Linked DNA regions of Homo sapiens: all the other regions are linked to region 2. The links come from fine-mapping of genetic effects on gene expression. A gene starts in region 2. Each other region holds a variant in brackets. All regions are shown on one strand. Distances are between the middles of the regions.

What was found. PIP is the estimated chance that this variant, and not a neighbour inherited with it, causes the effect.
Region 1: its variant is the best candidate, but not a certain one, in a credible set for the expression of WARS2 in subcutaneous fat (GTEx, PIP 0.56).
Region 3: its variant is the best candidate, but not a certain one, in a credible set for the expression of WARS2 in spleen (GTEx, PIP 0.51).

What each region holds. Positions count from the first base shown.
Region 1 is chr1:119,032,169-119,041,423 of GRCh38, reverse strand. It overlaps WARS2 (tryptophanyl tRNA synthetase 2, mitochondrial), which reads left to right. Exons shown (of 6, transcript NM_015836.4): 5 at 7,211-7,329; 6 at 8,065-9,255. The coding sequence ends at 8,513. Among named protein-coding and RNA genes, the nearest start is that of WARS2-IT1, 11 kb to the left of the region's middle. The variant G/A (reference allele first, on the strand shown) is at 4,968.
Region 2 is chr1:119,134,907-119,145,888 of GRCh38, reverse strand. It overlaps WARS2 (tryptophanyl tRNA synthetase 2, mitochondrial), which reads left to right and starts at 5,236. Exons shown (of 6, transcript NM_015836.4): 1 at 5,236-5,334. The coding sequence starts at 5,245. It overlaps WARS2-AS1 (WARS2 antisense RNA 1), which reads right to left and starts at 5,493. Exons shown (of 7, transcript NR_125975.1): 1 at 5,096-5,493; 2 at 4,076-4,142. RefSeq lists an enhancer at 5,155-5,464.
Region 3 is chr1:119,053,790-119,064,771 of GRCh38, reverse strand. All of the region lies in intron 2 of WARS2 (tryptophanyl tRNA synthetase 2, mitochondrial), which reads left to right. It overlaps WARS2-IT1 (WARS2 intronic transcript 1), which reads right to left. Exons shown (of 2, transcript NR_126447.1): 2 at 1,485-1,918. Among named protein-coding and RNA genes, the nearest start is that of WARS2-IT1, 12 kb to the right of the region's middle. RefSeq lists a silencer at 4,239-4,439. The variant G/A (reference allele first, on the strand shown) is at 5,237.

The sequences.
Region 1 (9,255 bases), 100 kb after region 2:
CTGAGGATGCTGATCCCTGCACTCGCTGTACTACTGGCCAGGGCTTCTGATTTCATCCCCCTCTCAATTCTTCCGTGCAAACCCCTCATCAGCCTCCCTTGACCCCCATTTGGCCTTCTAGAGATAAAGCCTCCCAATTGGCATGTGCTTAGGGCCATGCTACTGTGAAAGCTTCTGGGAAAAGAAGACACTGCACCAGTGTTTTTGCATCCCTTTCCCCTAAAGCTGTGAATTGCAATTCTTTGCATGGAAGTCTGATAATAGCATGAAGATGACAGTATCTGTACCTCGTGGCATGACTCCAGAGCCCTTGTGCAATTATGATGGAAACGGCCAAAAGAGCAGCTGCTTAGCTCTACAAACAGGGAATGTCCATGAGTACATGCAGCCTATCTTCAATTCTGATGAAAACTTGCAAGGCTTATTTGTCTGTTTGTTGTATTAACTTGTATGCTGGACTCTTGATAACATTTATTATTTGTAATAAGTAGCTTTTGACTTATTTAAAAGGCTAGAACAATATTCTCCAATAAGTAACAAATGAAAGTATAATGAAAGTCTTAATAATACATTTTCTAGAGAGGTAGGATATTTGCTTGTAAAGGTTCTGTGAAGAAACTTGACTTTCTCACCTGTAAAACGGGAATAATTATTAAGCACAGGATTATTAAAGGATTAAAATGAAATATAGGCCAGGCAGTACTGTGACTAGGAGCTGTTACTTGGTTATGACTAATGATGACTATGTCTTTGATAATTACAATGTTGTCTAATTTTGTTTCAAGGCCTACTTCTTTATAGAACCAAAGGCTAGCCAGGTGTGATGTTGCATGCCTGAAGTTCCAACTACTTGGAAGGCTGAGGCGGGAGGATCACTTGAGCCCAGCCTGGGCAAAATAGTGAAACCTTGGCTCCAAAAACAAAAACAAAAAACAAAACCTGAGAATTGTCAGCACTAGAATAAGAAAACACATGAGCGTGGTAGGTTTCCTTAATAGTTCAAGAGCTGTAATGGAAGAGTCCTCTGAGTTTAGGGCTATGGAAAAGCATAAACTTTAACAAGAATGACTACATTCTTAATGATACCATGAAGCAAAGGATGGGAAGGAGCTTTAAGGAGCCTCTTCTTTAATTCCATTGCTTTACAGCTTCAGTCCAGTGTGGTTTAACAACTTGCCTGAAGCTAAGTAGCCAGTCAGTTGACTTTGGAACATCTGGGCAAGACTATGGGTCTACAGCACTTTTTCTGCTAATGTACATTTTGTATTTGTCTCATTATGTTTTCTCTCAAGTTTAGAAGTTCCTAATTGCTCAATAATAAGTAGCAGAGTCAGGATTTAAACTCAGGTTTGATTTTTAAGCTATATCATTGTTTTCCCTATAACAGAGATGAAGCACTTGAAGGTATTTTTATTTGTTTTTGTTTTGCTTTGTTCCACACATTTCTGGATTTTGAAAAAGGTCATTGCCAGAATGTCTATGAATATTTGTATTATAAATGTAGACAGGTAGAATGGTAGATTGAAGGGTGGATAAAACATCTGTGTTTTTTTTTTCCTATCAGCAAATCTATGTGTGACCTCTTCATAAAATTTTGACGCAAGCCAAATATTAGTGTTTCCTTTTGTCAAAATCATCATTAGAATGAGTGGCATGGTGGGTCAGAAAACAAACATAATAGAAAGGAATGGAAGAGGAGCCTTTCAGATAAGTTTATAAAAGATTTATGTAACTATTTTGGCAGAACTTGGTAAGGAACCCTGGAATGGACAGCTGAGACCATCTTCAGCTTGAGAGTATGATAAGTACAAGAAATTTGAATACAGACAAAATATTCCAATGCTCAAAAATAGCAAGTGTTCATAGTTTTTATTTTGCATCTGTATTATTTCTCCAAATGCCTAATTTCAAATAGCTGGCTATGTATTAAGTAAATGTTTATTTCTCCCCTTTCTCTCTCTGTGTATATGTCTCTCTCTCTCTCTTTTTCTCTCTCTCTGTTTGTGTGTATGTATATGTGTTATATATATGTGTTGTATACATATATATATACACACACACATACACATAAAGGCACACACATACATATATAATTTTTATTAAACAACAACAAATAGTTGCTAAGTACCTACAATGCCACTGATCCGGAAAAAGGGCACTATACATGGCCTTGAGGGAAAGGAAAGGAAGGACTTGACATGTGTTGAGAATTATTTGCCAGGCATCTACTAACTGCTACACACTCATTATCTATTCAGTTCTCACAATAGGGCTATGAAATAAGTGGGTGGCATTATCCCCATTTTACAGATGGGGAAATGAAGTTTCAGAGAGATTCCACTAAATTCATTCAGATAGAGATGAAAGTGAGTATCTGGGCTAATCAGATTATCTTTCTCAAGAATCTGAAAAATTTGGGAAGAGGATAAGAAGACTGGAAACTGACGGGCACAGTGGCTCACGCCTGTAATCCCAGCACTTTGGGAGGCCGAGGCAGGCAGATCACCTGAGCTCAGGAGTTCAAGACCAGCCTGGCCAAAATGGTGAAACCTTGTCTCTACTTAAAATACAAAAAATTAGCCGGGCGTGGTGGTGTGTGCCTGTAGTCCCAGCTACTCGGGAGGCTGAGGCACAAGAATTGCCTGAATCCGGGAGGAGGAGGCCGCAGTGAGCTGAGAGTGCACCACTGCACTCTAGCCTGGGTGACGGAGTGAGACTCTATCTCAAAAAATAAAAACAAAAAGAAGACTGAAAACAAAAGCAAAAATGATATAGAAAAATGAGAAAACAGAGGCCTCAAGAAACTGCAGGCAGAAACCAAACCAAACCAAAACCCAGAAAGTATAGAGAGTAAAATGATTGCTCAGAAACTTCAGACTGGTAGAGTCAGAGAAGAGGTGTCATCATAATGTCTAAGAATCAGGCTACTGCCATTGAGGACCATTGAAAATAAGCTTTTTGAGAGCTTTGTATTATTATTATTTCTCTTTCTTTGAGACTGTCATAAAACAGCATTTGAGAGCTTTTTCTAAGAATGCTGGATTTCCTATAGCTGCCTTGGAAACTTCCAGTTCTTGAAGTGCTTCATTCTTTGTGAGGCCGGTTGAGCCTGGATTTTTCCGAGATGCAGGAAGCTACTCATTTCTGTAGTCTGCTCATATCCACATATTCACCCACTCTACCTAAGCAATAATTTTTTATCTTTCTCTTTCCACTTTACCTCTATTAGGCAAATGCCTACACCAAACCAGAACCCTACTGAAAGGCAGTATGAAAAATGTAGTTTCCAGGCTGCAGCCCCTGAAAATCAAGAGGTAGCATAGAAGGGAGAGAATGGTGCTGAGATGTCAACAGATAATCCAGTACACTCTCTAAAAAGTAACAGGAAGCTATTTGTACATTTTAAGGATACAGCAAATTTGATATGACTTATACTTTTAAAAGAGAATTGATTAAAATACAGAGAATGAGTTTTAGGAAGAGAAGAATATCTGGGGCCATCTATTTAGAGGCTATTTCACTAGTCTAATATGGGCCATGATGATGACAGTGAAGATGCAGAAAAGTAGACAAATATAAGAAACATTTAGGAAGTAAAACTGATAGGACTGGATGTGTATGAGAGGGAGGTGTCAGGGATGACCCGATATTTCTGACTTACCCAACTGGATTGATAGCATTGCCATTCACTGAGATAGGGGATGCTGAAGGAGGACTGGCCAGAAGAATTTAAAGCTTCATTGGGTATTATCTCTCCTCCTGGTGGCCTTAAATCTTTAGAAAGTAAACCCTTCATTATATCTTTCACAGTACCCAGCACCAGGACTTTCACATCGTGGGTCTTCAATAAGTAATTGCTGAATTAGAGAGTCATTATTGCATATCCTACAAGCAACTAGTCATGAGGAATTAATCCTTTATGACAAGAAAACACCACCAAACTCCTGTCCCAGCCGGGCTGGTTAAAGGCAGCAGCACTGAAAACTTACAAACACAGCCAAAAAAGTAGAAAAAGAAATAATAAGAGAACAAATCTCTGTGAGCAGATATATGTAGGCAACGTTTATTCATCTGGACACTAATTCTGCCAGAAGGGTGGGGTGATCTCAAGTATCATAGATGCAAAAAGGAACTAAGCAAAAGAAAAATGGTTTAGTCACCAAAGGAGAAGATCAGAGGCATTATTATATGACAGAAGTTATAACAATCAAAATTATGAAAGGCTTTTGTTTTATGTTGTGTCTAAGAAAGCACAGTCAGAGTAACTTAAAAAAAAGGAAAACAGAAAAAAAGAGAAGACACATTAAAAGGGATATCATTATGCAGGGTATAAATTTTTAAAGAACAGCACTAAATTATTTGAAGTGAAAGAAAGACTGAGGAGAAAGGCTGAAAATATGAAGAGAATAAGGCACATAAGTGAGTAGAATCAAAGACAAGATGAATTAATGTAAAGTGTAAACTCAATGGATGAGAAGTAAAGGCTAAGATAAATTATAGGAGGTGAAAGGAGCAGCAGGAGCACAGGGAGGGAAGGCTAGAAACAAACACACTAAAATCAGATGAAAAAGCCAAGTGGAGCAATGGGGCAGATGAAAAAGATTAAAATTTTTTAAATCCTTTTTGTTTTTAAAAAGCAAAACCCCACAGAATTGTTAAAAAAGAGGCAAGGATCCGACATCAGGCAAAGATGCATGCAGAGTCATTATGAAAACTAAATGTGTTTTCTGTTTAGTTTGGTTGCTTTGTGAATCTGGAACCATTTTGACATGTGGAAATATTCATTTTGATGTGCTTAAAGTGTATTGATTATGGTAATTGTTTTTTCTGTGTTGGTTGCAGTCCATTGTGATTTCCTATGGGCTACTGTAATTGCTTTCTAATCTGCTCTGTTGGCTAATTTGGCTTGGGGGCGTCAAGGTGACCTCTGCATGTCAGCCTCACTATAATTACAAGACAGGTATAGC[G/A]AAGTCCACTCAAAGAAGAGAAAGTTACAAAGGTGGGGTGTCTGCATGTACATCCCAGAGAGGAGTATCATGTAGGACCATGAGTGCTGAGGAAAACATAAAAAGGAATATTTTTGTTTTTGCCACTCACTGATCCAGTGGCTTTCTACTCCAGGCTGCGTGGAAGAGAGCAATGGCTATGGCCCTAATAGTTATTCTGTAGAATTTCCCACATTAACTTATTTATTTTTATTTTTATTTTTATTTTTCGAGGCAGAGTTTCACTCATTTCCCAGGCTGGAGTGCAATGGCGCAATCTTGGCTCACCGCAGCCTCCACCTCCGCCTCCGGGTTCAAGAGATTCTTCTGCCTCAGCCTCCGGAGTACCTGGGATTACAGGCATGCACCACCACACCCAGCTAATTATGTATTTTTAACAGGGACCGGGTTTCGCCTTGTTGGTCAGGCTAGTCTCGAACTCCCGACCTCAGGTGACCCGCCCACCTTGGCCTCCCAAAGTGCTGCATTACAAGCGTGAGCCAATGCACCTGGCCAACATTCACTTATTGACCTTAGAAGAAGAGAAACCACTCTGGGTCTGCTGTCATGGTCCTTACATTTTGCCTTTCCATTGATTGTTCTGTTCTTGTTTTCCTTAAATTAAAAGAGCTCTCAGAATTCCTGTAACATACCATTTATATTTTGGGATTACCTGATCAGATATGTGAACTGTCAGTTTCAAGTAAGTTTTCTATGCATATCAGGATCACTGCCCAGGTCTGTGACTATCTCTGGGATTATGCATTACTATTTGTGGTATGTCAGCTCTGAAAAAGGAAAATGATCTGGTGTGAAAAAAGTCAGTGTACCCCTCATCAAGGTTCTCTATAGTATCTTTATTTTACCATTTGTCCTTCATTTTACCTTTATTTGTCCTTCATCATGTCAGATATTAATGAATATATAGTTATATATTATATCAATAGCAACCATTTATTGAGCTCTTACTATCAATTAGTATACGTGTTATCCATGAAAGAGCTATATGAGGTAAGCTCCATGATGAACCTCACTTTACAGAGGAAACGAAGGCTTAGAAAGGGTAAGAAACTTGCCTATGATGGCTCGCTGCTTTTTTCACAGGAGCAATATTGTTTCTTTGATTAAAAAAACCTCAGCGCACTGTATTACTTGTATTATCAGGTATAAACTCCCAGCCAAGCATTGCATGTATAAAATTGCCTGTTTTTTAATCCCGCCATATTGCTTCAGTATAAAATTTTCCTCATCAAGACTTCTCTATAATGGTTCATTCTTCCCTTATTTGATGTACTATGTCATGATCTGACACTGCAAACTTTACATATGGGATTAAACTCATGATGAAGTCATTCCCTATATTCTGATATTTTTGGTTTCACATCTTCATTTCTTCATAATATGAAATATTACAGATAAAATTCAAGTCTCCTTTGTTCTTTTCTTCAGATCTATTTCCTTTCCACCTTCTCTAGAAGCAGCTACAATTACAAATTTGGGGAGGAGCTTCCAGTATGTTTTTTTACTTATTATTACAGATATATTTCCATAGGCACTTGTAAAATTTACGTAAATGTCAGTGTATTTCATGTTTTCTCCAACTTGCTTTTTTCATCCCACATAGTTTTTGATAGCCATCTACATTGTACTTATAGATTTTAAGTTCTCTGCAACATATTAATTGTCCTGTGATTGCAATGTACTTGAAAATGAAGCTTACTCCAAAGAATATTGAATTACTCCCTATGTGACAGGGAGGAAAAACTCTTGCCTGAAGAACTTTCTGCTGCCTTTGATTTGAAGAGTGGGGTGGGGTGTCTTTCAAGTATGAGCTGTAGTTCTGAGGTAAAGAGCATCTGGTCAGGGCTGGGAATAATATGTGCTGACTGGGTGAGGGAATGAGGAGTAGTTTTAAAACACAATTGTGCCTAGAGCATATGCTATTTAAAATCCCATTCCTCCCTCCCAGCAAGATCCTGTCATGCTGGTGTTGATGGCTGTATTCCCCTGCTGTGGAAAAAACACAACTAGAGTAGAGAAACATCTCTTTGGCTTTTGTCTGATCCATAGATAAAGACTTAGGTCTAAACATTCCCTCTATAGTTGGTGAACATTTGTTGAATACCAACAGTGAAATATTCACAGGAAATGCAGCTGCTTGCAATATCATTTCTGTCTCTAAGAAAGAGCCTTGCTGTTGTTTTTCTGTCTGTCTTTTATTAAAGGTCCACACACGTTCCTGTTGGGGAGGATCAAGTCCAGCACATGGAACTAGTTCAGGATCTAGCACAAGGTTTCAACAAGAAGTATGGGGAGTTCTTTCCAGTGCCCGAGTCCATTCTCAGTAAGTAAGAAACTTATAATTGTTACATCAGGGTATATTCTAAAGAGAGGATTGGACAATAGATAGGCTTGGAACTTTCTTGGGACTAACCTCAGCTTTCTTGTAGACAGGCTTCAGGATCTGTAACTAGAGTCCTCATTGTTTTCTCTAGTGTAGGACTAGAAAGTAGACTACGTTGGATTCCTGAAAAAGATGTTGGATTATTGAAAAGGATAACTAAAAATATTTTAAAAGTATGGAAGAGACCAAAAATTTAAAATAATATTTATAAAGTAGTATATAATTTATGAAGTATGAACAGATGCTTCTTGACTTATAATTGGGTTACATCCTGATAAAGCCATTGTAAGTTGGAAACACTGTTAATCAAAAATGCATTTAACACACATAACCTACTGAACATCACAGCTTAGCCTAGCCCACCTTCAGCGTGCTCAGAACACTTACATTAGTCTATAATTGGGCAGAATCATCTAACACAAAGCCTATTTTATAATAAAGTATTGAATATCTCATGTAATTTATTGAATACTATACTGAAAGTGAAAAACAGAATGGTTGTGTGGGTATTTCAAGTACAGTTTCTACTGAATGGATATCACATTTGCACCACTGTAAAGTTGAAAAATCATAATTCAAACCATTGCAAGTTGGGAACTGTCTGTGTGTACATCTTGGTGATCTGTTTGTTTTGTTTTTGTTTTGGGTATGTGTGTGTTGGTGTTTTTAACCTAGCATCCATGAAGAAGGTAAAATCCCTACGTGATCCTTCTGCCAAAATGTCGAAATCAGACCCTGACAAACTGGCCACCGTCCGAATAACAGACAGCCCAGAGGAGATAGTGCAGAAATTCCGCAAGGCTGTGACAGACTTCACCTCGGAGGTCACCTATGACCCGGCTGGCCGCGCTGGCGTGTCCAACATAGTGGCGGTGCATGCCGCGGTGACGGGGCTCTCCGTGGAGGAAGTGGTGCGCCGCAGCGCGGGCATGAACACTGCTCGCTACAAGCTGGCCGTGGCAGATGCTGTGATTGAGAAGTTTGCCCCAATTAAGCGTGAAATTGAAAAACTGAAGCTGGACAAGGACCATTTAGAGAAGGTTTTACAAATTGGATCAGCAAAAGCCAAAGAATTAGCATACACTGTGTGCCAGGAGGTGAAGAAATTGGTGGGTTTTCTATAGGAAGTTTCAACGAATCACAGCAAGGCTTTTGTGCCTTGCACTCCATGCATTCTGATAACGGCAGCTTTCCTAAAAAGAAAAAGTTATAGTTTTGGGACATTTAATTTGGTATAGCTGATTATTGGCTTTATTTGATGAATATTGCTTTGTAGCTTTGAAATACGACAGTGTTCCAAATCCCATCAACAAAATGCTGTGAACAACAACAACAAAAAATAAATCAAGAAGGCATAGCTGTCTGAATCCCCAATTATTGAGGCACACTCCTTGGCCTGCAGAAATGTGATTGAAGTAAGGAGTAATTTGGGAAATGGAGTATCATTTGTGCTTCTCTCTGGAGTACTTACTGTAACAGATGCACACGTTATCTACTTCAACCCTTTTATAAAGCAATATATAGAGGTCTTAGATGTATAATCCTTGAGATGCCATTTGATCAGATGCCAATTTGTATTCAGAGCTCATAAAAACAAGTCCATTCTTATAGTTTGTTTGTCACTGAGACGGTGCCTGATTTAATATATTTAAGCTGCTTAACTTGTTTTCCAAGAGATAACACCAACTGTTCCAGCAATAATTTGTTTTTTAATTCAGAGATATGGGATATGATCTTCTAAGGAGGTTGCATTATTTTGACCTGATTTATTTATTGTACAAGAGCCCAAGTCCCTGAATTATATTCTTAATAAGTGCTTTCTTGCATTCATTTCAGTTTAGTCTCACCAACCCCCTATGAATTAGG
Region 2 (10,982 bases):
CCAAGTGGAAAAGATACACCATGCAAAGAGAGACAACAAAGTAAAATACACTTTCAAAAGTTGAATTTTGCTAATTTTAAAGTTGTATTTCCTCTATGGGATACATGTCCTAAGACTGATGATGAAAAATGGGGATAAGGACCATTGAAATAGTCTTACAATTCTCCCAAATTATTCTCTATTCTAGATCCATACCCAAGGGAGCAATTCTCTGCCTTCTTTAAAGACCTGTTCTCTAATGTTCAAATGGCCATTTGTAAGAGTATGGAGAGAAAACATTAAATATGAACAGGAATCCTGGGGCCTGTAACATTCCTATGTAATCAGTATTCCTCCTGGTTCTGAACACTAAGGACTCTACTTGTAATGGAGTCAGTTTTCATGCATATTATTCACTTGTGTCTGCTCTGACTCTACCCACCTTCCCCACCTTCTCTCAACTCTCATCAAAATATCTTCACTGTTGTGGGGTGGAAAATTGTCCTTAAGGCAAGAAGTTGAACCTGGCAATATAAAAAGTGTGGCCTTGACCCTTAATCTTAAGAAAAAAGTGCTCTGAGAAAAATCCCATTTTGCTATTCACATCACTTAGTCTCTTCTTGGATTTTGCCCTTTCTTCCAGAAATAAAGTGACAATGATGACTCCCTATAAAACCCTTTAAGCCTTCCCAAAGGTAAGATGAGCTTCTGATTATTGTCCTTACAGTAAGATGCTATAATTTGCTCTCTCCCAAAAACTACTAGGGAAAGACAACATCTTTTTACATTAGGGGTGGAGATGAGAGTATCAGCCTTTAAAAATAAGACATTTGCTTGTTCTGACTTTGAAACCTGACACAAGGATGTGGCTTTATGTGGAACCTTCCCCATTTGGACCCGCCCTAGCTTTAGCCTCTTCAGCTTTACTGTGGTGTCAAAGTAGAACATTCATCTGGAGATGGATTTCTTTTTTTTTTTTTTTTTGAGATGAGTTTCGCCCTTGTTGCCCAGGCTGGAGTGCAGTGGCACAATCCTGGCTCACTGCAACTGCCGCCTTCCAGTTTCGAGCGATTCTCCTGCCTCAGCCTCCCGAGTAGCTGGGATTACAGGTGCCTAGCACCATGCCTGGCTCATTTTTGTATTTTTAGTAGATGGGGTTTCACCATGTTGGCCAGGCTGGTCTCAAACTCCCGACCTCAGGTGATCCGCCCACCTCGGCTTTCCAAAGTGCTGGGATTACAGGTGTGAGCCACTGCGCCCAGCCGAAGGTTCTTCTCATTGTTGCTTTTACTTGTGTGATTTTGGTCAAGGTACTTAATATCTGTGGACAAGTTTCATTAGTTATAAAATAAGAGGAAGAACTAAAGTTAAGCCAAAGGTAAAAAAAGAATAATCATTATTACAGTTTCCCATATACTTTTATGACTCTTGGAGGTTATCTCACTCAAAAGCAGGATCTGCCTCACTTTAATTTGGGTCCTTATAATAGGTCCAGCATAAGATGGCATGGTCAGAGAACATGTACAGAGAACTATAGTCCATAATTATGAAGAGAGAGGTTTGTTTGCTTTTATTATGGAATCTCTTCTATATTTGAAAAAACATACTCAATATAAATGAAAGGTCAGGGGTGAATGAATTGTGCTTTAAGTAAGTTTTGAATACAATTGCCATCTAGTCTTTGCAGTCTGCAAAATTCTTCTTTAAGTGAATAAATGTGTAGGGCAACTCTCCATTACCTTGATCAGCATCTAATACCAACCTGACACTTAGAATTAAATTAGAGAAAGAAAATTGGATACTTTGAGACTTGAGGGCTGATTATACTGCTTGAGCTAAGAATGGATTTAAACTCTTCCCTTATCCCATTTAAATCTAACTAGGTATAAACTCTCCATTACTAAGGAATAGAGGTGTGTCTGCAGAGGTGGAGGTTCCCCTTGATGTTCTTGGACAAGGAAACCTAATCCTTTCTTCTGACACACATGGTTGCAATAGAAACCATTTCCCAACTGCCAGTCTGGTTTTAATCTGTTGTTTCTAGCAGGAGAGGATTTGCAGGGAATGTTAAGGAGAGAACAAAATTACCAGAACTTACTATAAAGTAAAAGTGTTGATGAGAAATCAAAATTTAAACAAGTGTTCAAAATTGTAAGCATGAACATATGTAGACATATAGTTCACGTTATAAGGATAGGACTATAAAACTTTTTAATCTTAGGTATGTTTAAAGTCTGCTTTCCATACAACATTTATATCTTACTTTACCAAAGTTCTTTAGCTTACTCAAATGATAGCAGTGGTAAAATACCGTCATTAAATACAGTGGTGCTTCATTTAAACACCACTGTTGGAGAATGAATTATTCCATAGGAGAATTTTCCATATAACCAACTGCATAATACACACTTTTCTTTTCTTTCTTTCTTTTTTTTGAGACAGTCTTGCTCTGTTGCCCAGTGTGGAATGCAGTGGCTTGATCTCGGCTCCCTGCAACCTCTGTCTCCCTGGTTTAAGCAACTCTCGTGTCTCAGCCTCCTGAGTAGCTGGGACTACAGGCGCACACCACCATGCCTGGGTAATTTTTGTATTTTTCGTAGACATGGGGTTTCACCATGTTGGCCAGGCTAGTCTCGAACTCCTGACCTCAAGAGATCTGCCCGCCCCAGCCTCCCAAAGTGCTGGGATTACAGGTGTGAGCCATTATGCCCAGCCCATGATATATACACACTTTTAAATGTTAACCATTTTGTATGAAAACATTTCAAAAGTGTATTGTAGGTTTTTTCTTCAAAGATACATTGAATAATATATCTTTCCCCGAGGAGTCATGGTTACCATTATTAAAAACTTATTAAAATACGTTAAATATACTGAGCTGAATATATTCCTCCTCTTAGAAGATGGTGAGCTTTGTAGTCATACTTTCCCCAACACCAAAATGCTTACTGTGAAAAAGTACAAAAGTAGACAGAACTGGTTCATTTTTAATACATCCTGTGTCTTTTCTGTTAACTGTTCCTTCTGGCTGTTAAAAGCATAACAATTGCTGACAATAAGCTGTGTAATTTGTTAAAATCCAATTTACTTTTAAAAGAGGTGCCTACTCTGCATAAGAGACTATTCTAGGTGCTGGGGGAGATGTTAGAAATATAAACTATAGTCCTTGTCCAAGAAGCAAGGCTGGCTGAGTGACACCTGAGAGTTACCAGGTCACCGCCACGGTGCAAAACACAGTTTATTACTTCTAACAAAGTCTAAAAATTAGCAAATATTTTCAATTTTAAAAATCAGGATACTAAAGTTATAAAACTTGTGGTCTTAAAGTCCCACCTTTTTTAGTGGGACTATGTCTTGGAAATACCTCCCACGGAAATATTATTGGTCATAGGAGTCTGCAGATACGACTAAGAACTACTTCTTGAAGAAATAAAGTAGGTACACCCTTTGACAGCTTTTGGTGCACCATAGTCTTATTGCTAGGTTTTATCTTGCTATCTAGATGACTAAAGATGTCAGAAAGCTAATCTTGCTAATTGCTAGGGTCATGTAATCTCATTAATAAAATATATGTAAAACACTGTACTATAATGCTTTGCTCTATGTATGAGTAAAACATGTAGGGCATTTATTAAACTGCATTTTACAAGGCATAACATATATCCCCCTTCCCCTGGCAAGGTTTGTTTCCAGGGTCTCAGTAATATCACATTCTTTGGGTTCTACAACACCTCTTGGCTCCTTTATTTCCATCATCTGGCTACTTTCACTCCACAAACTCTATCTGATGGTCTCAAGGATTTCCTTGGTTTCAATTACCATCTGTTTGGTAGTTCAAATCTCTTCTGAGCTCCAGACCCATGTATCTATTTAATGGGCATCACATTTTGGAAGTACTACAAGCACCTCAAATTTAACAGCCAAAACCAAACTGATCAGCTTTGTTGAAGACTATAACTTGATTTCCTAGTTTTTTTTTTGCCTTCATCCCTTTCCTGCTCACTTCTAAATTACACCAATTATACTTGAACTTCACCAGTACTTTGTATACCTACAAGATTATCCTATATGGTTTTAATTTACTGTTTTGTCTTACCCTGGTAGATTTCAGCTCCTTTATAGGCATCTCTTATCTCCTACCTCTCCTTGGTAATTTTCAGTAGCTGGATGAATTATAAACAAAACACATAAAGGAATTGTCATGAATTTCTTCCAGTTATATTTTTACTGAAACACTCGTTATCTGTCTGGGAGATTTTTAGGTGAATTAACAGAAGCAGAAAAACTGTATTAAACTTTCTCATAACCCCAAACAAAACAATTTCTTCCATCAGGTATAACCTTCCTGCAGCCTTCCCTAGACTAGGTTGAAACACCACAGTCATAACCACTCCTCCTTAAAACTTGCGGTGCTTGCTTCTTTAACACCTATTAAGTGTACATCATTTATTTATCCGCTACTCTATTAGACTGTACACAACTTGAAGACAAGATATGTCTTTCTCTGTACCTTCAGTGCCCAGCACATTACGGTAGGGTTCAACAAAGTTTACAGGACGAATGAAATAAGGCCACATAAGTCCAGTGCGGTGGCACATGCCTGTAATCCCAGCACTTTAGGAGGCCGAGGCAGATGGCTTGGCTTGAGCTCAGGAGTTTGAGAGAGCCTGGGCAACATGGTGAAACCCTGTCTCCACCAAAATACAAAAATTAGCCGGGCGTGGTGGCGCACCCTTGTGGTCCCAGCTACTCAGGAGGCTGAGGCAGGAGAATAGCTTGAGTCTGGGAGGTGGAGGTTGCAGTGAGCCGAGATCGCGCCATTGCACTCCAGCCTGGGCGAGAGTGAGACCTTGTCTCAAAGAAAAAAAAGGGAAATGAGGCCACACATGTCTAAAAAGACCACTTATATTACCCTCTAAGAGAACTGGGAGTTTCTAAACAAACTTTTTAAAGGTTGCCTTCACATAGCTAAGATCAGAAATGCAGCCTACTTGACTTTCTTCCAGTCTAAAGCGTTGCTACTAATAACCCCCAAGGAAATTCTCCTTCCAGGAAGGCTGAGCAGACAAGGGATCCAGGGAAAAACACTAAAGCCCCACCCCGCTCCTGTCCCCACCTGCTCGGCAAGAACTGCAGTCCGCCCGATAGCGGCTGCGCTGCGCAGCCTGGAGGCCCAAGCCGCGCCCAGCAAGCAGGAGTCGCGAGACTGGGATTGGCTCTCTGAACAGACGTCATTCCAAACAAGACGGCTCCGCCCTTCTCAAGATGGCGCTGCACTCAATGCGGAAAGCGCGTGAGCGCTGGAGCTTCATCCGGGCACTTCATAAGGGATCCGCAGCTGCTCCCGCTCTCCAGGTAACCAAAGACGGCCCTTCCCTCCGCGGCTTCCCATCCCGCGAGGTTCTTCTCATCCCACTGCCCTCTATTTATTTCTCTCCTCCCGCTTCTTAGGGAAAGTACATGCCTTCCCTCGCCTAAGGTCTACTCGTCTATGACTGTCGGCCTGCTCAGAGCGTAGTGACGTTGCAAGGATACGTGATGACGTAAAGGTTTCTTGGTGGAAAAAGCGCGCCGCTTTCTGACCTCTTGCCGCCACCTCCAGTTCTGGGAGCGGAGCGCCGCCGCTGTTGCCGGGCAACGCGGTGAGCCTACCCCGCGTGTGATGTTTTCAGAGACGGGTTGTTTTAGAGACTGCTCTTCTTGTGGTCTTATTACTGTTTTTACCCTCCTTACCCTAACAACACGCTAAGGGGCTATCGGAGAGAGTAGAGAAGTTTTGTTAGGCATTGGGCAGCTTGGGTCGGGGCAGCAGGTTGGCAGTGTGGTACTTGAGCAAGTGTCAGTGCATCTTCCATTCTGGTTGCTCCTGGTGGCTCCACAGCACTGCTCTATCTAGCAGGCTGTGAAAGAGTGACCGCAAGCTGCTACAGAGTTTGTCCTGTCCTGCGCTTGACAACACTGCTGTTACCATTAATCTCGTCGTACGGAGACCATGTCGCGGCCTGGTCTTATTGGGAATTGTCTTAAATATTTGGAATTTTACCCTCATAGCAAAAAAGTCAGGGGGAGGGGATACCCTTTCAGTTATTCAGGATTTTACCAAACGTCTTCCAAGTACAGTCTCAGTGGCAAGCACTTTGACATACTTTATCTACGGGAGATATATTCTGGGAACTAGAGAGAAAGGAGAGAATGTGATTTTATTAGGTAATTTCCCGGCATCATTTGCATATGTATTGCCATAATGAGTAGGTGTGAGGATGTCGCACCTATTGTAACTGTTGTGTTGAAAACAGCGCTAGACAGGAAGGTAGCCTAGAGGTCAAGGGTTTGGTCTGCCACTTGACAGCTGTGTGACAAGTCACAATCTCTCTGGGACTTTTCTTCTTTTTTTGCTCATATTGAGTGGAGGAAGAGAGCTGGACTGATTGACACGTTAATGTTCTTTCAACCTCTGGAAAATCTATAGTTCCATGATTATGAAGCCAAAACAAAGCCAATGAGAGTAATTATGAAAACCAAAATTTAAGTTCAACTTATTTTTCTAGTCATGTCATAAATTTTTTGAACTTCCGTTTTTTATTAATGTGAGCCTCACAAAATTCTTATAAGCTAATATATTAATATATACCGGAAAGCTGCTTGTCAGCAAACAACTATTCAAATGTCACCTTAAATTTCAGCAGCAATGTTAGGTAAGACAATTCAAAATTAGATAAATTTATCAAAAATTCCTCTCCTTGAAATTTGAGGGTTTGATTCTGCAGAACTAGAATGAGATGATTATTTATAATTTATAGCACATTAACACCTATGCTATCAAAGTAGCTAAGCCGTAGACCCAAACTTCCCCTTATTCCAAACTAAAGAATTGAAGATGTCTTGAGAATAGAGAATCAAAGAGAGAGAGAAAAAAAAGACAAACTGCAGCCTGCTAATGACTGCCCAGGGAAGTTTAAGACACTAAGTCATTATAAATGCTAAAGAAAAAATTTCTTAAACCTCTACTATTGTTTCAGTGGCATTTATGAATAGGGCTATTAAAGTTAATTATTAATCTAGATTGTTTCAAGATGTAGAATTTCCAGTACCGATGAATGTTTCTAAACCTTTAATTTAGCTTTGAGTAGAATAAGTATTAAATGTGAGAGTATTTTTTTAAAGTATAAATCTACATATAATTTCAGTCATTGAAAATGATGGTTTGAAAGATTAATGTGGTTTTTTGAAAGACTGAGAAAAGATACAAAATTGTGTTCATAGTGTTATTACGATGTTATGTTTATATATAAGTGTTTATATAAACGTATACATAGAAAAAAAGCCTGGAAGGGAACAAACATTTTTAACTTTTTTATTTTGCTTTGGCCTTCCTAAATAGTGGGTTAAAAGTTATTTGTTTCCTTTTATAGCATTACATATTTTTCACATGTCTAAATTGAAGACACACACTTTTTAATAACCAGAAAAACGTTTTGAAATCATAAATCTTTATACAGATCTTTAGTCATTAATATCATTTGTGATATTTTAGGATTCTGAGGAAGATACTTGTCCCACAATGCTGTTATTAAAATGGCCTTAGAAAAGGACTACTAAAAATTTATGGCCACTTTTCCTGTATGTATCTTCTTTTTCTCTTGAAAAGCTTCCTTTGAAGTCAAAGGGATTTTGTGAACAGATGCAGAAATATGTGAAAGAGGCATTGGATTCTTAAACCAGATGCATTAGACATTTTTATGATATCTCATAACCTTTGTAGAAAAAAATTATTTTGCAAGAGTATAGTATAATGGGAAAAAATGTATATTTATCATATGAATGGTTCCATCAAAAACCAAGAAATAGCCAAGTTAGTTTTTATTAGCCTTGGCTGTGCACTTACTCCCTTAGGTGTAAAGCAAAAGTGAATGAGCCATAACAGTGCTATGTTAGAAACTCTAACTAATAAAGTGTTGTGATTCCTAAGTTGTTTTAATGGTTTTTAGTGTTTTCTTTTTTTAAAACAAAATCTTGGGTAAAAATGTTGGCATAGGGCATCTTTGCTTATCTCAGAGGATGCAGATGTAAACTCAAGTTGAAAATAAAACAGGGAGAAACAGGAATAACAGCACATCACTCCATACTCATTATGGGATGTCTACAATTTATATGAAAACGGTTTATTTTGCCAGGTGTTGCCTGACAGAAAACTGTTGAAATCTGACAAGATGAGCGTAGTCATAAAGTCAGAGGAGTTAAGATCTGACATGTTCTGTTTAAATGTTGATGGTATTAGGTAAATTTAAGCCTGTCATCATTGGCCAAACACAGAATCCATACTTCTTTAAGCACTAAGTCATGATTGTATTGTGCAAAGAGTGAAATATTGATGGTTAGTAGATTTTTGCAAAAGTATTTGTTATTCAGTTGAAGTATGATAAAGTGTCCACATTTTATTGCAGTTGAACATGTTTCATTATTAGCGGTTCCTAGTCTGGGTTTGGCCAGTATTCACATAATGTTCTTGCTGTTAACTATCGCTAAGTATAGCCATTAGATGAAGAATTACGCCTAAAAAGAAAAAAAGCGTGGTTTAAAATTTTTGACCCTGTATTTAATTCTCACAAGATTTAAATTTTTTTAATTTTAAAATAATTTTAGATTTACAGAGTTGCAAAATTAGTACAGAGAATTTCTGTATACCCTTCACCAAGCTTTGTCTTGAATAATCATAATACAGTTATCAAAATCAAGAAATTAATATTGGTACAATAATAGTAATTTAGCTACAGACTTAGTTCAAATTTCACTAGTTTTTTCACTGTCCCTTTCCTTAGTCCAAGATCAAATCCAGGGTCCCACAATGCATTTAGCTTTCATGTCTCTTCTAATGCATACATTTTCTCCTTCATGACCTTGGCACTTTTGAAGAGAACCAGTCAGTTATTTTGTAGAATGTCTCTCAGTTTAGGTTTGTCTGATTTTTCTTTGTGTTTAGACTGAGGTTATGGATTTTTGGCAAGAATACCACGAAGAGATATTGTTCATAACAAGGCCTTGAGGCAGGTATTGCCACCTTATTTCAAACGTGAAGAAATAGTCTTTGGTTAAGTAACTTGCCCAATGTCACACAATGGTGGAATTAGGATCGTAAGATTTAATGTAGGCATTTCATTCCATATTTTGCAATTAGTATTTGTTATTGTAGGTTTCTGGAATGTTAATGACATTAAATTGGCATAGTGTTCCCACTGACTTTTAGCTTTTCTCTGCCATGTATTGTTCATGCAACATGCAACATGAGCTAATCAGCATGGTATGTGTTCAAGAGCTACTACAATCATCTGGGAATTTTGCTAGTTGATTACTCTGCCAGTTTGATGAGGTTACTTCATCTCTCATGGCAAAAAAAGGTGTTGCGTGGATCCACTCTAAAGCTCCTTTTAATCTCAGTCGGTGAGTCTTATTTGTTTAAAGTGCTTTTGTGGTTGGTTGCTTTTGTGAACTGACCTAGTTTATTAAAATGATAATAATATTTAAATTCTTTGCAATATAGCTTTGAGGAGCTAATGAAAACTACTGATAGTAACTGTTGAAAATATAGAGGAAGGAAGAACTGTAGCTGAATGCTGAGGATTTATGCTAGCAGATAGTACGGCAGCCATGGCCTGGAAATGCTGAAGAGAGTGATGCTGCTGACCTCCAAATTCTTGCTCAGTATATCTTTCGAATGACTGCAAGTTACAGAAGAGCTGTCTGCAGAAGCTTCTACAACTATATGTACACACACACACACACACAGACAAATATATATTTTTTATACAAATTTATTTATTTATTTATTTAAACATCTATTGGCCAAGCACGGTGGCTGACGCCTGTAATCCCAGCACTTTGGGAGGCCGAAGCAGGTGTATTTCTTGAGCTTAGGAATTTCAGACCAACCTGGGCAACATAGTGAGACCTTGTCTCTATAAAAAATTCAAAAAATTAGCTGGGCTTAGTGGCATATGCCTGTAGTCCCAGCTAGTCAGGAGACTGAGGTAGGAGAATCACCTGAGCCCAGGAAGGCTTCAGTGAGCAGCGATTGTGCCACTACACAGTTAAGATCCTGTCTGAAAAACCAACAAACAAAAAAACCCCAAAACCCATCTCTCTCTCTCTCTCTATCTCTCTATCTATCTATCTATCTATCTATCTATCTATCTATCTGTCTATCTAATCTATCTATCTCTATATTCCATGTCTTTCAGAAAAGGAACTAACAGCTAGTGCCTGCTATGTGCTAAAGTCTCATGGTATGTGTTTTACATACTTTATCTTATTTACTTCATACAACAATTTGTAAATATTATTCATCCCATTTTATAAAAGAGGAAACTAAGATTCAGAGAGTTTAGGTAATTTTCCCAAGTCACAGAGTAAGTAAATAGCAGTGACACAGTTCAAACCTAGTCTTGCCTATGCTTTTCCCACCTTACCAGTAGTCTTTTATCAAATGAAATCTTACATGAATCCCTGTTATATAAAACAGATAAAAGCAAAGCTTTTCTGATTTAAGAAGCAGAGGAGTATTTTTAGCCCTGCTTGTTTGATTTCCCTCTCCCCCATTACCCGCCCCACTCCACAACCCAGGGGCTCCTGAGACAGTGCCACACAATTTTGGATTTCTTAAGATGTAGTTTGAAAAATACTGCAGCTTCCATAAATATCTAAGTAAGTTTGTTGATCAGGACCACATATGATGGATGGATTATTTTTAAGGAGCTGCACCGTAAATGAGTGGTTTGAGAGTATTTACTTTGATGTGTATATATTTTATAACTACAATACAGTATTCTATTGATCTTAAGCTACATAAGAGTACATGAGATAATAGCAGTCAAACAACTTTCTTTCCTTTTCTTGCCTTCTTTCTTTTTTACAGCTTACTGCTGCCAAACATGCTGATCTTTGTGCCCAAAGATAATGCTTTGGATTCAGTCTGTCACTGTTGTAACTAACCTAGCCTCTAGCCTCCT
Region 3 (10,982 bases), 81 kb after region 2:
TTTTAATTGGACTTAGAGTTTTACATGGGGAGGCCTCAGAATCACGGCGGGAGGTTAAAGGCACTTCTTACACACCAGCGGCAAGAGAAAAATGAGGAAGAAGCAAAAGTGGAAACCCCTGATAAACCTATCAGATCTGGTGAGACTTATTCACTATCAATAGCATGGGAAAGACCGGCCCCCATGATTCAATTACCTCCCACTGGGTCCCTCCCACAACATGTGGGAATTCTGGGAGATATAATTGAAGTTGAGATTATGTGGGGACATAGCCAAACCATATCATTCTGCCCCTGGCCCCTCCAAATCTCATGTCCTTACATTTCAAAACCAATCATGCCATCCCAACAGTCCCCCAAAGTCTTAACTCATTTCAGCATTAACCCAAAATCCACAGTCCAAAGTCTCGTCTGAGACAAGGCAAGTACCTTCTGCCTATGAGCCTGTAAAATCAAAAGCAAACTAGTTACTTCCCAGATACAATGGAGGTACAGGTACTGGGTAAATACAGCCATTCCAAATGGGAGAAATTGGTCAAAGCAAAGGGGTTACAGGGCTCATACAAGTCCAAGATCAGTGGGGCAGTCAAATCTTAAAGCTCCAAAATGATCTCCTTTGACTCCAGGTCTCACACTCAGGTCACGCTGATGCAAGAGGTGGATTCCCATGGTCTTGAGCAGCTCCACTCCTGTGGCTTTGCAGGGTACAGCCTCCCTCCTGGCTGCTTTCACAGGCCGGCATTAAGTGTCTGTGGCTTTTCCAGGCTCACGGTGCAAGCTGTCGGTGGGTCTACCATTCTGGGATCTGGAGGATGGTGGCCTCTTCTCACAGCTCCACTAGGCAGTGCCCCAGTAGGTACACTGTGTGGGGGCTCCAACCCCACATTTCCTTTCCACACTACCCTAGCAGAGGTTCTCCATAAGGGCCTCGCTCCTGCAGCAAACTTTTGTCTGGGCATCCAAGGCATTTCCATACATTTTCTGAAATCTAGGCGGAGGTTCCCAAACCTCAGTTCTTGACTTCTGTGCACCTGCAGGCTCAACACCACATGGAAGCTGCCAAGGCTTGGGGCTTCCACCCTCTAAAGCCACTGCCCGAGCTCTGTCTTGGCCCCTTTCAGCCACAGCTGGAGTGGCTAGGACACAGTGCGCCAAGTCCCTAGGCTGCACACAGCACCAGTACCCTGAGCCTGGCCCACAAAACCACTTTTTCCTCCTGGGCCTCTGGACCTGTGATGGGAGGGGCTGCTGTGAAGGTCTCTGACATGGCCTGGAGACATTTTCCCCATGGTCTTGAGGATTAACATTAGGCTCCTTGCTACTTATGCAAATTTCTGCAGCGGGCTTGAATTTCTCCCCAGAAAATTGGTTTCTCTTTTCTCCCCAGAAAATTGGTTTTGCATAGTCAGGCTGCAAATTTTCCAAACTTTTAGCTCTGCTTCCCTTATAAAACTGAATGCCTTTAACAGTATCTAAGTCACCTTTTGAATGCTTTGCTGCTTAGAAATTTCTTCTGCCAGATACCCTAAATCATCTTTCTCAAGTTCAAAGTTCCACAAATCTCTAGGGCAGGGGCAAAATGCTGCCAGTCTCTTTGCTAAAACATAACAAGTCACCTTTGCTCCAGGTCCCAACAAGTTCCTCATCTCCATCTGAGACCACCTCAGTCTGTACATTATTGTCCATATCACTATCAGCATTTTGAGCAAAGCCATTCAACAAGTCTCTAGGAAGTTTCAAACTCTCCCTTATCTTCCTATCTTCTTCTGAGCCCTCCAAACTGTTCCAATCTCTGCCTGTTACCCAGTTCCAAAGTCACTTCCACATTTTCAGGTATCTTTTCGGCAATGCCCCACTGTACTGGTATCAACTTACTGTATTAGTCTGTTTTCATGATGCTGATAAAGACATACCTGAGACTGGGAAGAAAAGAGGTTTAATTGGACTTACAGTTCCGCATGGCTGGGGAGGCCTCAGAATCATGGCAGGAGGCAGAAGTCACTTCTTACATGGAGGTGGCAAGAGAAAAATGAGGAAGAAGCAAAAGTGGAAACTCTTATAAACCCATCAGATCTAGTGAGACTTATTCACGATCATGAGAATAGCATGGGAAACACGGGTCCCCATGACTCAATTACCTCCCTTTGGGTCCCTCCCACAACACGTGGAAATTCTGCGAGATACAATTCAAGTTGAGATTATGTGGGGACACAGCCAAACCATATCAATCATACAACTTTTGTATAAAGCAAAAATTTAAAATATGGGATTAAAAAATGAATATAAGTAAAAGTCCTTTTTTTTTTATTTGCTGTGCTTCAGGAGATAGTCTTGCACAGCCTCTGAGAATCACAAATCTCATTTTGGAAACCACTGTTTTAATTGCTCATCTCCAGTGGCCACCATGCTATCTTTGTAGGTTCAAGTAAATATTCAGAATCATGAGACCACCACAGGTTATGTTTGGTACTAGTCTACTTAAAAAGGCATAGAACAAGAACCTTAGCTTGCCAGCAAGGTAGCTTCTCTAAACAAGAGTCCTTACTAGAGCAGTCCCTGTAGCAGTAGGCAGCTAGCTCCAGGAGGTATTTTCTCTCCAGGTGTACTCATAGGTGTAGGAACTATTTTTTCTCCAGCTCAAATGCAAGGAGATGAGATCTACATCAGTGGGTGGTACAATCTCCCTTACCAAAGAAGCCTCAGTTTTCCACAAGAGCCAATATCTATTTTTACATTTCATATATAGACCTTGGGGTCACTGAAAGAGATGTACCAGTTACAAGGGTCACTATACTCAGGAAAGCCTAAACTATTACTTTCTCTCAGGTATTTATAGTTCTCTAAGCCTAGATGTACTTTACCAGCTGGGGATTATTTTTATCATAAGCAATGTTGCCTAGCAGTGTTGTTAACACATACTGTTTTATCTGGTAAATACAGACCTAGGTTGTTGATCCAGAGTCAGAGTCTCATGGAGCAGGTGAAAATGTTTTGTTAACCTGCTTACTCAGTTGGCTACTAGATTCCATTAACTAATAGAATCCATTAGATCAGTCATGTTGCTGCTCTTTTGATTCTCTACTACCATTTCTGTACTTACAGACAGAGCAATAACCTGTGAACACTTTAATGCTGTAAAAATAACTATGAGGAATTAGTTTCTCCCTAAGGGAGAAGGTAGCATCCAACTTCCTGATCCTAAATATGTAGTTTCATGAGACTATGTTCCTTTATTTTCTCAATCTTCTAACTCTATCTTCCTTAAGTGGGTTAATTTCTACTGATCTATCTTTTCATTCAGTGACTCTTCTGCCCTCCCAATCTGTGTTTAAGACTTTATAATGATATTATTTCAGATATTGTATGTTTTTATTCTAGTATCTTTATTGGCCCTTTTTTATTGGTTTAAAAAATTTATCTGCTGAGATTTTCTATCTGTTTATTCATCTCAGGAATATTTTCTTTTGTATCTTTAAGCATAGTTGTAATAATCGCTTCAAAATTTTTGCTAATTAAATACAACATATGGAACATCTCGGGTTTGGTCTCCATTGACTGCCTCTTTTCTTAAGAATGGTTTTTGTTTACCTATTTTTTAATATGTCTAATAATTTTGGCTAGTATCTTGAATATTTTAAATGACAAATTGAAGAGATTTTAAATTATGTTGTATTCCTCTGAAGAATATCTTTAAATAAAAATCTGTTGTTTTTTTAGCAGGCTCAAGCCCCAAATTGTCTTTCCAGTAGTAAGCAATAATTGAAATATTTTGCCAGTTGTTTTAGCCATTGTTGGACAGCTTGGAGGTGGCCCCGTGCATGTGGAATTCAGGGGTTGGCCAGATACTTGGGTAGAGTTAATACATAGAATATAAGGCTATACCACTCTGACTCTTTATTTAGAAATTTCACTGCTTATTTTCCAGGCATTATGGTGACCCAAACTTTGTTTTTTCATTCTTCAAGCCAGTAAGAATGCAGGTTTCTATCATATTTAGATGCTTTTTATGTCTGCAACTGAGGACTGCCCTCAGACAGAAAGTCACAAAACAGGACACTTACTCCGTGTTATCCATTTTTTAAAAGAGTAAACCACACCCCTAGTTTCTGCCTGCTTTCGATTGTTCTCCAATGCCTTCAGGCCGTTGATTTTTATATTTTGCTCAGAGTTGAAACTTGCTATCTGTGTTAGAATTTATCCAATAGGAGCTTGCTATCAACTGAGTTGTATCCCTCAAAATTCATATGTTGCTCCCTTAACCCCCAGTATGACTGTATATAGAGATAGGGTCTTTAGGAAGTAATTAAGGTTAAATGATGTCCTAAGGAGGGAGCCCTAATCTGATAGGCCTGTGGCCTTATGAGAAGAGGGAAAGATCTGTCTGTTTTTCTCTTTTTCTGCCTGCCATGTGGGGTTATAGCATGAAGGCAGCCATCAGTAAGCCAGGAAGACAGGAAGGGAGCACTCACTAGAACACAACCATGCAGGCCCCTTCATCTCAGACTTCCAGCCATCAGAACTGTGAGAAAATTAATTCCTGTTATTTCAGCAGCCCAGTCTATGGTACTTTGTTATGGCAGCCCAAGAAGACTGATACCAAGCTAAGTAGCCATTACTAGAAGTGAAAGCCTTGTTTTTAGATTGGATTGGAAAACTCAATATTGTTAATATGTTATCTTTTAAACTTTTAAGTTCAGGAGTACAAGTGCAGGTTTGTTACATAGGTAAACTTGTGTCTTGGGGGTTTGGTGTACAGATTATTTCATCACCCAGGTATTAAGTCTAGTATCCATTAGTTATTTTTCCTGATCCTCTTCCTCTTCCTACCCTCCACCCTTTGAAAGGCCCCACTGTGTGTGCTTCTCCTCAATGTGTCCATGTGTTTTTATCATTTAGTCCCCACCTATAAGTAAGAACGTGCAGCATTTGGCTTTCTGTTCCTGTGTTAGTTTGCTAAGGATAATGGCCTCCAGCTCATCCATGTTCCTGCAAAGGACATGATCTCTACTTTTTTTAAATATTGATCTATAGACTTCTCACAATCGCAATGAAAATTTCAACATACATTTTTATATAAACTGACACACTGAATCTGAAATGTATAAGGCCATGCAAAGTGTTTAGAATACTCAAAACAGCTTTGAAAAAGAAAACACAACTAGAGGACTTATACTGCCTTTTGAAGCTTATTATACAGCTATAATAATTGAGAGTGTGGTATGGACATAGACTTACAG[G/A]TCACTGAAAAGAAATGTAGAAAGCTGAAACTGGATCCCTTCCTTACACCTTATACAAAAATCAATTCAAGATGGATTAAAGACTTAAACGTTAGACCTAAAACCATAAAAACCCTAGAAGAAAACCTAGGCATTACCATTCAGGACATAGGAATGGGCAAGGACTTCATGTCTAAAACACCAAAAGCAATGGCAACAAAAGCCAAAATTGACAAATGGGATCTAATTAAACTAAAGAGCTTCTGCACAGCAAAAGAAACTACCATCAGAGTGAACAGGCAACCTACAAAATGGGAGAAAATTTTCACAACCTACTCATCTGACAAAGGGCTAATATCTAGAATCTACAATGAACTCAAACAAATTTACAAGAAAAAAACAACCCCATCAAAAAGTGGGCGAAGGACATGAACAGACACTTCTCAAAAGAAGACATTTATGCAGCCAAAAAACACATGAAAAAATGCTCATCATCACTGGCCATCAGAGAAATGCAAATCAAAACCACAATGAGATACTATCTCACACCAGTTAGAATGGCAATCATTAAAAATTCAGGAAACAACAGGTCCTGGAGAGGATGTGGAGAAATAGGAACACTTTTACACTGTTGGTGGGACTGTAAACTAGTTCAACCATTGTGGAAGTCAGTGTGGCGATTCCTCAGGGATCTAGAACTGGAAATACCATTTGACCCAGCCATCCCATTACTGGGTATATACCCAAAAGACTATAAATCATGCTGCTATAAAGACACATGTACACGTATGTTTATTGCGGCACTATTCACAATAGCAAAGACTTGGAACCAACCCAAATGTCCAACAATGATAGACTGGATTAAGAAAATGTGGCACATATACACCATGGAATCCTATGCAGCCATAAAAAATGATGAGTTCATGTCCTTTGTAGGGACATGGATGAAATTGGAAATCATCATTCTCAGTAAACTATCGCAAGAACAAAAAACCAAACACCGCATATTCTCACTCATAGGTGGGAATTGAACAATGAGATCACATGGACACAGGAAGGGGAATATCACACTCTGGGGACTGTGGTGGGGTTGGGGGAGGGGGGAGGGATAGCATTGGGAGATATACCTAATGCTAGATGACGAGTTTAGTGGGTGCAGCGCACCAGCATGGCACATGTATACATATGTAACTAACCTGCACATTGTGCACATGTACCCTAAAACTTAAAGTATAAAAAAAAAAAAAAAGAAATAGGGAATCAAGAAGTAGACCCACATATATATGGTCAAATATTTTCAATGAAGGGTTCAAAGCAGTTCAGTGGGGGAAAAAATAGTCTTTTCAGCAGAGGGTGTTAGGTCTCCAGCTAGATGTCCATGTGAGGGAGAACATGAACCTTGACTCTCACCTCATACCATTCACAAAAAAGATCAACTTAAAACCACCACAGACTTAAATGTAAAATCTGAAGCTATGAAACTTCTGAAAGAAAATATGGGGAAAATTTTCCAGGCCTTTAGGATAGGCCAAGATTTCTTAATAGTACACAAAATCACTTAATATAAGAGAAACTATTGATACATTTGATTTCATCAAAAGATAAAGCCTCTGTTCTTCAAAAACACCATTAAGAAAATGAAAAGGTAACCCATAAAGTGGGAGCAAATATTCACAGTACATATATCTGGCAAGGCTTTTATCCAGCTGTATAAAAAACTCTTAATAATAAGGAGACAACCTAATTTTTTTTCTTTTTTTTTTCTTCTCAGATGGAGTCTTGCTCTGCATCCAGGCTGGAGTGCAGTGGTGGGATCTCGGCTCACTGAAACCTCTGCCTCCCGGGTTCAAACAATCCTCCTGCCTCAGCCTCTAGAGTAGCTAGGATTACAGGCACCTGCAACCATGCCTGGCTAATGATTATATTGTTAGTAGAGACGGGGTTTCACCACATTGGCCAGGCTGGTCTTGAACTCCTGACCTCAAGTGATCCTCCCGCCTCAGCCTCCCAAACTGCTGGGATTACAGGCATGAGCCACTGTGCTCGGCCATGCTAATATTTTAAATGGCCACTTTATTTGAGTAGACATTTCACAAACAAAGGTAACAAATGGGGCCAGGCGCAGTGACTCACGCCTGTAATCCCAGCACTTTGGAAGGCCGAGGAGGGAGGATCACGAGATCAGGAGTTCAACACCAGCCTGGCCAATGTGGTGAAACCCTGTCTCTACTAAAAACACAAAATTTAGCCGGGCTTGGTGGTGTGCACTTGTAGTCCCAGCTACTCAGGAGGCTGAGGCAGGAGAATCACTTGAACCCAGGAGGCAGAGGTTTCAGTCAGCCGAGATCGTGCCACTGACTCCAGCCTGGGCGACAGTGCAAGACTCCATCTCAAAAATGATAATAATAATAACAAATGGCTAATAAGCACATGAAAAGTTCAACATCATAGTCGTCAGAAAAAAAACCATAGTAAGATACCAGTTCACCCACTTGGATGACCAAACTTAAAGATACTGAGAATACTATGCTTTGGTAAGTATGTTGAGAAACTGGGATTATTTTACATTGCTAGTAACACTGTAAAATGATAAATCTACCTTAGAGAACAGTTTGTCAAAGTTAAACGTATACTTACCACGTGACCCAGCAATTCTACTCCTAGGTATTTACCCAAAAGACTTTACCAATAATCTACAAAAAGAGTTGTATAAAACATGCTGAGTATTAAAGCCAAGCATAAGAGTTTATATTATATAATTTCATTTAAATGATATAGAATAAGCCAAACAAATCCACAGTAACAAAACTGATCAGTGGTTTCAAGAGCAAGGGGTACAAAGGGACATGAGAGAACTTCTTTTGGGAGAATCAAAATTTTCTGTATCTTGATTGGTGTATAGATTTGTCAGAATTCATTGAACTGAACAGCTAAAATGAGTGCATCTTATTGTTTATAAAGTATGCCTCACTGGGCTTGATTTACTATATATAATATATATATTTAGTATATATATATATTATATATTTAGTCTATAGTCTAAGTCTACAAATATATAGAATGTATATGGACTAAATATATACTATAAAAATATATAATGTTTAAATGAATAGGCTCGTAGGATGTTGTTATATGAACCAAAAGAAAGAAGGAAAGCCCATGGAATTGTGTAGTGTAGGGAACACTGCAGGTAGTTTACTGCAGCTAAAAAATTGGTATGGGCCAGGCGTGATGGCTCATGCCTGTAATCCCAGCACTTTGGGAGGCCATGGCAGGCAGATCGCTTGAGCTCAGGAGTTTGAGACCAGCCTGGGCTACATGGCAAAACCTCGTCTGTACTAAAATTACAAAAAAAAAAAAAAAAAAAAAATTAGCCAGGCATGGTGGCACTTGCCTGTAATCCCAGCTACTTGGTGGGGCTAAGGCAGGAGAATCGCTTGAGCCTGGGAGGTCGAGGCTGCAGTGAGCCAAGGTCACACCACTGCACTCCAGCCTGGACAGCAGAGAAACAGAGAGAGACCCGTCTCAAAAAAAAAAAAAAAAAAGTTATGGTATGAAATTTTCATCTGATCTTTGAATCATGTATTCACAATGCAACCAAGAAACAGCCTGCTCAGAGTTTTATTCCGTAAACTAATAATTTGATTTGTTGATGTATCATGTTCCCTATACTGATAGTTTGTTTCTTTTATCAACTGCTTTTCTTTAATCCCCCAAAATTGTCCTCCAATCCATAACTTTTGACTATTTCCCTTCAGATTTTCTTTCTTTCTCCTTTCAGATATTCTTTCTTTCCTTCCTTCCTTCCTCCCTCCCTCCCTCTTCTCCTCCTCCTCCTTCTCTCTCTCTTCTTTCTTTCTTTTCTTTCTTTCTTGCCTTTCTTCTCTGTTTTTTGTTTGTTTGTTTTTTCTTTTTGGGACAGACTATCCCTCTATTGCTGAGGCTGGAGTGCAGTGGCATGGTCTCGACTCACTATAACCTCTGCCTCCTGGGTTCAAGTGAATCTTGTGCCTCAGCCTCCCAAGTAGCTGGGACTATAGGTGCGCACCATCATGTCCAGCTAACCTTTTTGTACCACCATGCCTGGCTAACTTTTTTGTATTTTTAGTAGAGATGGGGTTTTGCCATGTTGGCCAGGCTGGCCTTGAACTCCTGACCTCAGATAATCCACCTTCCTCAGCCTCCCAAAGTGCTGGGATTACAGGCATGAGCCACCATGCCTGACCACTTCTCAGATTTTTTTCTAGCCATTTCGTTTCTCTCTAATTCTAGACTTGTATTACCAGCTATCTTCTAGACATCTCTGTGAATATCTTCAAAGTCTCAAGTTCAGCATATCTGAAACCAGACCTTTCCTTTTTGCCTCAAACCAGCCCTTCCATGTGACTTTTAAAAACAATTTATTGAAACAAAACTCACATAACATAAAATTTACCATTTTTTCCAACTTGAGAAATACGTTTCATCTATATTTTTATATACCTTTTTAAAAATTTTTGAAATTTGTAAAACACATTAAATTTATCATCTTAACCATTTATAAGTATAAAGTTCTGTAATGTATATTCACATTGTTGAACAACCAATCTCTAGAACTTTTTCATCTTGCAAAACTGAAAATTCTATACCCATTAAACAATAACTCATTCCCCTCTCCCCCACAGTTCCTGGCAACTCCCACTTTACCTTTTGTCTCTATGAGTTTGACTACTCAAATGTATACCTCATACAGATAAATCATACAATATTGGTCTTTTTGTGGCTGGTTTATTTCATTTAGTATAATGTCCTCCAAGTTCATTCATATTGTAGCATGTGTCAGAATTTTCTTAATTTTTAAGGCTGAATAATGTTACATCATATGTTTGTACATTTCATTTATCTAGTCATCTTATAATGGACATTTGGGCTGCTTCCATCTTTCAGCTATTGTGAATGATGCTGTTTTGGGCATGAGTGTACAAATATTCTTTGAGACCCTGCTTTTGATTCTTATGTATATATATGAGAAATGGAACTGCTGAATCATATGGTAATTCTATTTTTAATTTTCTGAGGGATCGCTATGCTATTTTCCATAGCAGCTGCACCATTTTACATTCCTATCAACAGTATACAAGAGTTCTAGTTACTCCATATCCTCACCACACTTACTATTTTCTGGGAGATATATATATATATGGCAGCCATCCTAGTGGATATAAGGTGATATCACATTATGGTTTTGATTTGCATTTCCCTAATTATTAGTAAGATTGGGCATCTCTTTCATATGTTTGTTGGCCATTTGTATATGTTCTTTGGAGAAATGCCTATTCAAATCCTTTGCCCATTTTTCAATCGAGTTGATGTTTAGTTTTGTTTTTGCTGTTGATTTGTAGGAGTCCTTTATTTAAAATGTTTTATTTAATAATAATAGTTATTGTTTTATTTAACAATAATTTATAATTAAATAAATTATAATTTATTAAATAGTATTATTTAATTATTATTATTATTTGATAGGGGGTATCTCTCTGTTGCTCAGGCTGGAGTGCAGTGGTGTTATCATAGCTCACTGCAGCCTTGACCACCTGGGCTCAAGCCATCCTTCTGCCTCAGCCTCCTGAGTAGCTGGGACTACAGGTACATACCTCTATGCCTAGCTAATTTAAAAAAAAATTGGTTGGGGGATGATAGAGATGGGGCCTTCTTGTGTTGCCTAGGCTAGTCTTGAATTCCTGGGCTGAAACAATCCTCCTGCCTTGGCCTCCCAAGTGCTGGCATT